2 separate regions of the Homo sapiens genome follow, and region 1 is linked to region 2. Evidence: fine-mapped expression QTL. A gene starts in region 2. The other region holds a variant in brackets. All regions are shown on one strand. Distances are between the middles of the regions.

The links. PIP is the estimated chance that this variant, and not a neighbour inherited with it, causes the effect. A credible set is the group of variants that fine-mapping cannot tell apart.
Region 1: its variant is the best candidate, but not a certain one, in a credible set for the expression of KLHL4 in adrenal gland (GTEx, PIP 0.80).

The regions. Positions count from the first base shown.
Region 1 is chrX:87,396,055-87,400,458 of GRCh38, reverse strand. No RefSeq gene overlaps it. Among named protein-coding and RNA genes, the nearest start is that of KLHL4, 120 kb to the left of the region's middle. The variant T/G (reference allele first, on the strand shown) is at 1,982.
Region 2 is chrX:87,515,908-87,520,311 of GRCh38, reverse strand. It overlaps KLHL4 (kelch like family member 4), which reads right to left and starts at 2,510. Exons shown (of 11, transcript NM_019117.5): 1 at 1,997-2,510. The coding sequence starts at 2,418. RefSeq lists enhancers at 1,779-2,554, 2,555-3,330.

The DNA of each region.
Region 1 (4,404 bases), 120 kb after region 2:
CTGCAGCTTTTCCAGGCACACGGTGCAAGCTGTGGGTGGGTCTACCATTTTGGGATCTGGAGGACGGTGGCCTTCTTCTCACAGCTCTACTAGGTGCTGCCCCAGTAGAGAATCTTTGGGGGCTCTAACCACACATTTTCCTTCTGCACTGCCCTAGCAGCGGTTCTCCATGAGAGTCTTACCCCTGCAGCAAACTTCTTCCTGGGCATCCAGGCATTTCCATACATCTTCTGAAATCTAAGTGAAGGTTCCCAAACCCCAATTCTTGACTTTGTGCACTCACAGGCTCAACACTACGTGCAAGCTGCCAAGGCTTGGGGCTTGCACCTTCTGAAGCCACAACCTGAGCTCTATGTTGGCCCCTTTCAGCCATGGCTGGAGTGGCTGGGATGCAGGGCACCAAGTCCCTAGACTACACACAGCACAGGGACCCTGGGCCCCACCCACGAAACCACTATTTTCTCCTAGGCCTCCAGGCCTGTGATAAGCGGGGCTTCTGCGCAGACCTCTGACATGCCTTGGAGACATTTTCCTTATTATCTTGAGGACTAACATTCTGTTCCTCATTACTTATGAAAATTTCTGCAGCTGGCTTGAATTTCACCTCAAAAAATGGGATTTTATTTTCTATCGCCTTGTCAGGCTGCAAATTTCTCAAACTCTCATGCTCTTTTTCCCTTTTAAAACTGAATGCCTTTAACAGCACCCAAGTCACCTCTTGAATGCTTTGCTGCTTACAAACTTCTTCTGCCAGATTCCCTAAATTACCTCTCTCAAGTTCAAAGTTCCATAAATCTCTAGGGCAGGGGCAAAATGCCACCAGTCTCTTTGCTAAAACATAGCAAGTCACCTTTGCTCCAGTTCCCAACAAATTCCTCATCTCCATCTGAGACCATCTCAGACTGCACCTTATTGTTCATATCACTATCAGAATTTTTGTCAAGGCCATTCAACAAGTCTCTAGGAAGTTCCAGACTTTCCCACATTTTCCTGTCTTCTTCTGAGTCCTTCAAACTGTTCCAACCTCTGCCTGTTACCCAGTTGCAAAGTTGCTTTCACAGTTTTGGGTATCTTTTCAGCAGAACCCCACTCTAGTGGTAGCATTTTTCTGTATTAGTTTGTTTTCATGCTGCTAATAAAGACATACCCAAGACTGGGCAATTTACAAAAGAAAGAGGTTTATTGGACTTACAGTTCCACATGGCTGGTGAGGCCTCATAGTCATGGTGGAAGGTGAAAGGCACTTCTCACATGGCAGCAGACAAGAGAAGAGAGCTTGCAGGAAAACTCCCCTTTTTAAATCATCAGATCTCACGAGACTCATTAACTATCATGAGAACAGAACAGGAAAGACCTGCCCCCTTAATTCAATCACCTCCCACCAGGTTCCTCCCATGCCCATGGGAATTGTGGAAGTTACAATTCAAGATGAGATTTGGGTGGGGACACAGCCAAACCATATCAACAAAAAACCATTAAATTATAAAATTCTTAGGTCTATAATGTTATGTCAGAAGAGTGAATGATACATTCTTAAACCTAATATTTTTCTAAGTAATTTCTAAAACTTCCACTTTTGTCCAACAGGTTAAATCTCCCTTTATATAATTGAATTAACAAACTGGCACTATTAATCACAATTGACTAGGTTACCACAATTTGTTCAGTAAAATTTTTGTTCGAAATATGAATGCCAATATGAATACCAAAATTGAAAGAAGAATATTTAGTTGGATCTGGAGTCTGCCTTTCATGAGATGTGTGACTTTGGACAAAAGCTAAGGGAGGCTTTTTTAAAAAATCCATATCCTGTATACATTGTAGCATATTGGTCCAGACAGAGAAGAGGCATTGATTCTGAATGTCTTGGCTTGAATATTAGTCCTATGACTGACTAGTGATATAACCTTGGAGAAATGATTTAATCTTTCTATGCTTTAGTTTTCTTATTATGAAATAGAGGTAATAAGAGGGTTTTGAG[T/G]ATTAAATGAGTTAATGTGTATTAAGTGATTAGAACAATACTTGGCATATAGGAATCAATAGAGAATTATTTGGTGCTATTTTTATTGTCATTGTTGATGTTATTATTATTATTATCAAACTTTGGTTGGCAGGTGAATCTGTATGGCCTTTGTAATGACTTGTAATCTACTACTTCCTCAGCCACTTTTAAAAAATTTTTAAATTATATATTAAAAAAATTATAGTTTTATATATTTATGGGATAGAAGGTGATGATATGACTTTTTAATACAACCTGGAATTATTAAATAAAGCTAATGAACCTATCCATAACCTCAAATATTTGACATATTTTATTCTAAGAACATTTGAGATTTACTCTCTAAGCAATATTGAAATGTATAGTACTGAAATATCAACTATATGCATTATGCTGTGCAACAGATCTCCACAAAAATAAAGCTTATTCCTTCTATCTAATTGAGTATTTGTCCTCTTGGATTGCCATCTCATTCCCTCCAGCCTCCGCCTTCGTCAACCCCCACTCTAATCTCTACTTTTATGAGTTTGGGTGTGTTAGATTCCACATATAAGTGGAAACATATGGTGTTTCTTTCTGTGTTTAGCTTATTTCATTTAGCATAATGACCTCCAAATTTCATCCATATTGTTAAAAATGACAGAATTTCTTCCATTTTAAAGGCTGAATGGTATTCCATCAGTCACTTTAATATCATGACATCTGGCTGTAATTTCTCTCTACTCATCTCTGTCACCACAATCCACTGTTCACTTGGCTATTCTGCTTCATTTACTGAATCACAGTTTATTAGTTTGCTAGGGTTGCCATAACAAACAGCCACCGGCTTCATGTCTTTAAAAAAAACCACAAATTTATTTTGTCACAATTCTGGAAGCTGTAAGTCCAAGATTAAAGTACCAGTAGGGGAGGTTTCTTCTGAGATGTTTCTCTCTCCTTGGCTTGTAGATTGCTGTCTTATCTCTGTGTCTGACAAAGAGTCTCCTTGACCAAACTTTAGTGACATTCCTCTGAGCCCCTTTTTTCAGCTAGACCTTGAGCTTGCCCAATTTCTTTTTAATTTTTGTCAGGCTTGCATAACGTACTTTTAGCAAGAATCCTGATTAGTCATTTAAGAGATAATACCCCACCCTTGATATCAGACCATGTTCAACATCCCCCACCTTTAATGTCTAAGTTCTTGGCCTGCATTCAGAAAGAATCCTGTTAAGTTGGTTTAGCAAGAATCTCCTTAGCATTGCCTTTTAGTAATTTTCCATCCACTGGCCCCTTCAGTCTGCTGATTGGCTATAAATCACCAACTGTTTTTAAATTTGAAATTGAGCTCAATCTTGTCTTTCCTAGTGCAATGACCTTGAAACCTTAGTGTTTTAACAAGTGTCAGAATATTTTTTCTTTAACATGGGTTCACATAGTCTTTTCTCTGTATGTATCTGTGTCCTAATCTCCTCTTCTTATAAGAGGTCACTCTAACGACCTAATTTTTTCTTAACTACATCTTTAAAGACCCAATTCCAAATGCAGTCACGCTCTGAGGTACTAGGGCTTAGGAATTTAACATATCAACTTTGAGAATAGACACAATTCAGCCCATAACATGTGTATTCTTTTTTAATGCAAATCCTCACACACTCTCAGTAATTTCAAAATCCAGGTTAACAATACATAAATCACCCTTTAGTCTCAGTTTCTTTAAACTTCTCATTTCTAATGGCCTTTTTCTCCACTCAATAGCCACCATTCTCACTGTCATACCATGAACGTTGTCATCATCCTGAACTACTGTAGTTACTAAATCACTAGTTCAAACCTCCTACTTTGATCAACATTTATCTTTCCAGGCTATTTTCTAAACTCTTCCTATTATTATTCTTGTCCCTTATCAGGACTAGCATTCTAATGACCTAATTTTGTATCCATCATCCTTCTTTTGTTTTCATTTTATTCTCTATTTCAGATGCTGTGGTTTGTTATTTTAATTACTCTCATGCCAGTACCTAAACCTCCTCTGTCATTTGTTATATGTACCTGAAAAATCTCTGACCCAGGTAGCCAAATGTTGGTAAAAACACATAATGGAAAATTTTCTTTCTTTACTTTTTTCTTTTCTTCTTTCTTTCTTTCTTTCTTTCTTTCTTTCTTTCTTTCTTTCTTTCTTTCTTTCTTTCTTTTTCTTTCTCTCTCTCTCTCTCTTTCTTTCTTTCTTTCTTTTTCTTCAGAGTCACTCTCTGTCACCCAGGCTGGAGTGCAGTGGCATGATCTCGGCTCACTGCAACCTCTGCCTCCTGGCTTCAAGCGATTCTCCTTCCTCAGCCTCCCAAGTGGCGGGGATTACAGGTGTCTGCCACCACGCCTGGCTAATTTTTGTATTTTTAGTAGAGATAGGGTTTTGCCATGTTTGC
Region 2 (4,404 bases):
GCCTGCTGCCAACTTGTTGGGATCTTTTCTTCCTGCTCCTCAATATTGCTCAAGAAGAGAGGCACTGGAGAAGCAAGGCATCAGAAAGCTCCTTCTCAAATGATGCTGGACCAAGACAGGAAGATTTAGAATGGTTAAGGAGAAGGTAATAAACCATCGTATTTCAATTAATAAGATCTTCAATTTAGCCCCTCCTGCCTAAGATATCCTTGGCACACCTATAAAACCATTTCCTGTATGTATATTAAGAAAACGTTAGCTTTCCAATGAAACCATAGAATAATTAACAAGGCATTTCTTTAGAAAATAAAAAATGTCAGGAATAAAATCAAAGGATAAATGCGCTTTTTAAACTGTCACTTGATGACGCTTTAAATGTGACATTTTACCTAACATTTTTTCTAACATCTATTTTATTGTAAATATTCCCATACTAGAAAATTAATTCATGTATTCTCAAATAATTTTGTTCCAAAGTTACAGTTGGTAATTTAAATTTCCCTACAGCAGAGTTAAATTCATTTATTAATCTCCAAATTCAGCAGTTTTTTAAAAATTGTTCTTGGTGACGAGAACAAATTTGAAAGCCTGCTGAATTTAAAATTATGGACTCTATATTACTTTGAGAGTCTTATTTGTTGTACCAAATGCAACCTGCAATCCCTACAGTTATATAGCTTTTCCACGAGCAAGCACAAAATATTTAGGAAAATTTCACACATACGTGCTTTATTTCCTGAGAAGTTTATATGACAGACAATCTAACATTATTATTAATGTCATTTCACAAAGTCTTCTGCATGTTTATATTTCAACAAGACTGAGTTCCTATAAAGGCATCATTTTGCTGTAATGTTATTAGGCTGCTTCTTCTTCTGATAAACTGTTTTGAATTTATGAAAGCAAGACACTGTGAGGTTGTTTTATTGGGAAAACTTATATTAAGAAGCAAATCTGCCAGTCCTTCTTCTCTATTTTTAGGTAGAGACATAGTATGCCAGATATCCAGGTTTCCAAATAAATTAGCATGTTGAACTACTATATGATCTAAAATGCATAAAAACACTTATTTTTCTATAGTACTACTGAATATTAATTACATTGCCAATATTATCAACTGTGTCTAAAACACGTTGGGACTATAAAAATGTCTGATAGTGAAAAAGCAAAAAACAAAGAGATAAGGATACACTAGGTTAAGTTATAGTTGACAGTATTAGAGAACAGAATGTAATTTTCTTGCACTCAAACAATACCGGTGGGCATAAAAGTAAAGACAAAATCAAATGTTTTATGAACTATACCCAAACTACACTATATCGTCACTGTTTATTCAATTTTCATTTTATGTAAAAGCTGAAATGCTCCATTTCCCGCTTTAAGATCACATTGCTGTAAGTAGCATCTTATTACCTGCTTTATGTAGAATATTTTCATGCTTGCAAAAACTAGCTATGAAAGTAATACAACTTGAAATGAGTCTCCGAACGCCAAATATTCCATATTGTCACATAAAGATAACACAGTTTTAAGAGTCAATATCGCAACTATGTACTAAGGAAACAGATAAGGATGTGCTGATCAGTCACAGCTTTTATTTTGTTAAAGTTGGCCTAACTCACAATGTCAGAAAGAGTTCTCCGTGATTCATAACACTTGCACAAAGAATTGCATTTAAACATCTGAGCCACGGAGTGTATTTATAGAACATTAGTAATTACAATAAACATCTCTTAGAATTGAAACAGAATTCTTAATGAAAATAGGAGAAGTAAACTCATAACCCACCCCCCAAATTTCCGGTAATTATAAAGACGTATTCATTATTGCTGTTTTCTTTTATAAACTTAGAGGAGACGGTTTCTGAGAGACTCTGATTGGCTGAATACAAACTCAGAGATTATTATGACACTTTCTATTTAAACACTAAACATGAATTGTAGAGGATAAGTTAACTGAAGTTACGGCATTCAGTTATGCGACCAAAAACTCTTACCTTGCTGTAGAATCTTCTATATTGTCATCAGCCATCATCTCCAAATCTTGTGCGCGTTTCTCACAAGCTTCTTTGAATAAATTCTTCTCTGGAACTGATTTAGGAGTATCTTCATTTGCTTGAAAATGTACTATCAGATTATGTTGCTGCAAATTCTGAACGGCTCTCTGATGGGCAGGGGCCGGTCCTGGCACTGGTGCCAGTATATTGTGGTGGACAGGACTGTTGCTTTTCTTCAGTCCGTTTCTGTCCCGAGAGTGGCTCTTCAACCTGCCCTGAACCGGGGTCCCTCTATGCTCATATCCTTCCTGCTGAAGACAGCTTCCAGTGTTGGTGGAACCTTGAAAAGGATGACTAAACCACCTCCAGCGTAGCCTTAGGATCTGTTTCACATCAAACTCTTTCTTGCCAGACACTGACATCGTAGCAGGAGGAAAGACAAAAGCCTTCTCTCACAGAAAGGAAACGGAGCCTTTGTTATCTCTTGTTTTTCTGCCTCTTCTGTAGAACTAACAAAAGCACAAGTGCCGAGAGCAGTCTTTCTTGCTTTCTCTCCCCTCCCCCACTGCCTATGATACACTGTGAATACTTGTAGCCTTCTAGCAGAAGCAGAAGGCTGCAGCTAACAGTGTAGGTGGGAACCCATGCTGACAGGATGATGAGGTCAGACCTTAAACAAGTAAATCAGCTTACCACAGGAAAGCAGCCACCACAACACTCTCCAGCTGTTAGATTTGCAGGCTTGCAGCCCTCCTGCTTGGACTTGCAAATATCTAGCCCTGCTTCTTCAGTATCAAAGTACAGTAGCTGCAGCTGAAACCCAGGCAAGTGAGCCAAAGCGAAGTGTTTAAACTTATTTTCTTCTAGATTCCTTCTACTCACGCCTCCCCTGCTAGATTCATTTCTCAGTAGCCCACTTCTAAAAATGTGCCACTTTGTTCCATGATAATATGCGACAGAGGAATTCATTATAATCTATTTTGAGATTCCTTTTATGGAAACTTTGAAAATGGTTCATTAAGGGAAAGCATCAGTACCCTCATGCGGGTTCGTAATTAGTTTTTACAAAATTAATCTGAAAATGTGAAAGTCTCTATATGAATATTTACCTGAAAACTTGACAGATTTTAGAAACATGTAAGAAAGTATTGGTTACCCATGACCACTCACACAAACACGCCATTTGGGAATGTAGAAATGGTATTTTTAGTCTACATATGGAGGAAGAAAGCAGTGCTTTTCCAAGCTAGTTAGGTTAAAAGAGATGTCTTCTCTCAGTTACCACAGCTTGAAAATGAATAGTTCATTCTGGCTCCATGCCTGGATACAAACCTTCTTATCATGCCTTTTACTTTCACAGGCAGTGTTAAAGGTTTATTTTCTTTGTTCAAAAACCCTTATGAGAGGATGAACAGAGTATGTTTTGAATTAATTCCAAATCATCACACTGTTCAGGAATAACTGTGCCCAAAGTACTTTGAGATCTGAATCATAATCACTACTTTGTACAGATGGACATGTTTACAAAAGACAGTCATGTATCAAGAATGCATTTATCATTGACATTTTGAAATTCAGTTTGTACTTTATCCAGTTCTCATATCATGCATACAGGTGATAAAGGGGAAATTATACTGGTGTATGACTAGAAAGAACACTGAAGTTGTAAGATTTTGCTTTTAGTTTGACTTTATGGTTAATGAACTGTGTGACCTTGGACAAGTCACTTTACTTTTTTGCATCTCAATTTCTTCATATATATTATACGGAGTCTAGACAGATTTCTATGTTTTCAAAAGCACTCAGATGTGATGGATTTAAAAACAACTGAAGAGAGAATAAAATGAATCTAAGTTTTGATAGGCATTTTATCTGTGGTTTTCTTTAAATTCAATTATACCTCTCCCTTTCCCCTCTTGTTTTTGTAGGTGTGATAGTTAATTTATGCATCAACCTGACTGAGCTATGGGATGCCCAGATATTTGGCTAGTCTCGATGTTTCTGTGAGGGTATTTTTTTTTTGGATGAGTTTAACATTTAAATTGATAGACTGAGTAAAGCATATTCTCCTCTCTAATTGGGTGGGGCTCATCCAATCAGTTGAAGGCCTAAATACAACAGAAGGCTGACCTTTCCCTCAATAAGAGAGAATTACTCTTGCCTCACTGCCTTCTATCTGGAACATGGGATTTCTTCCTGCCTTTAGACTTTAACTGAAACACTGCTTCTTCCTGGATTTCAAGTCTGCCAGCATTTGCGCTGGAAATACACCATTGGCTCTCCTCAGTCTCCAGCTTGCCAACTGCAGATCTTGGGACTTGTCAGGCTCCATAATCATGTCATCTAATTCCTTATAATAAATCTGTGTGTGTGTGTGGTGTGTGTGTGTGTGTGTACATATAGAGGAA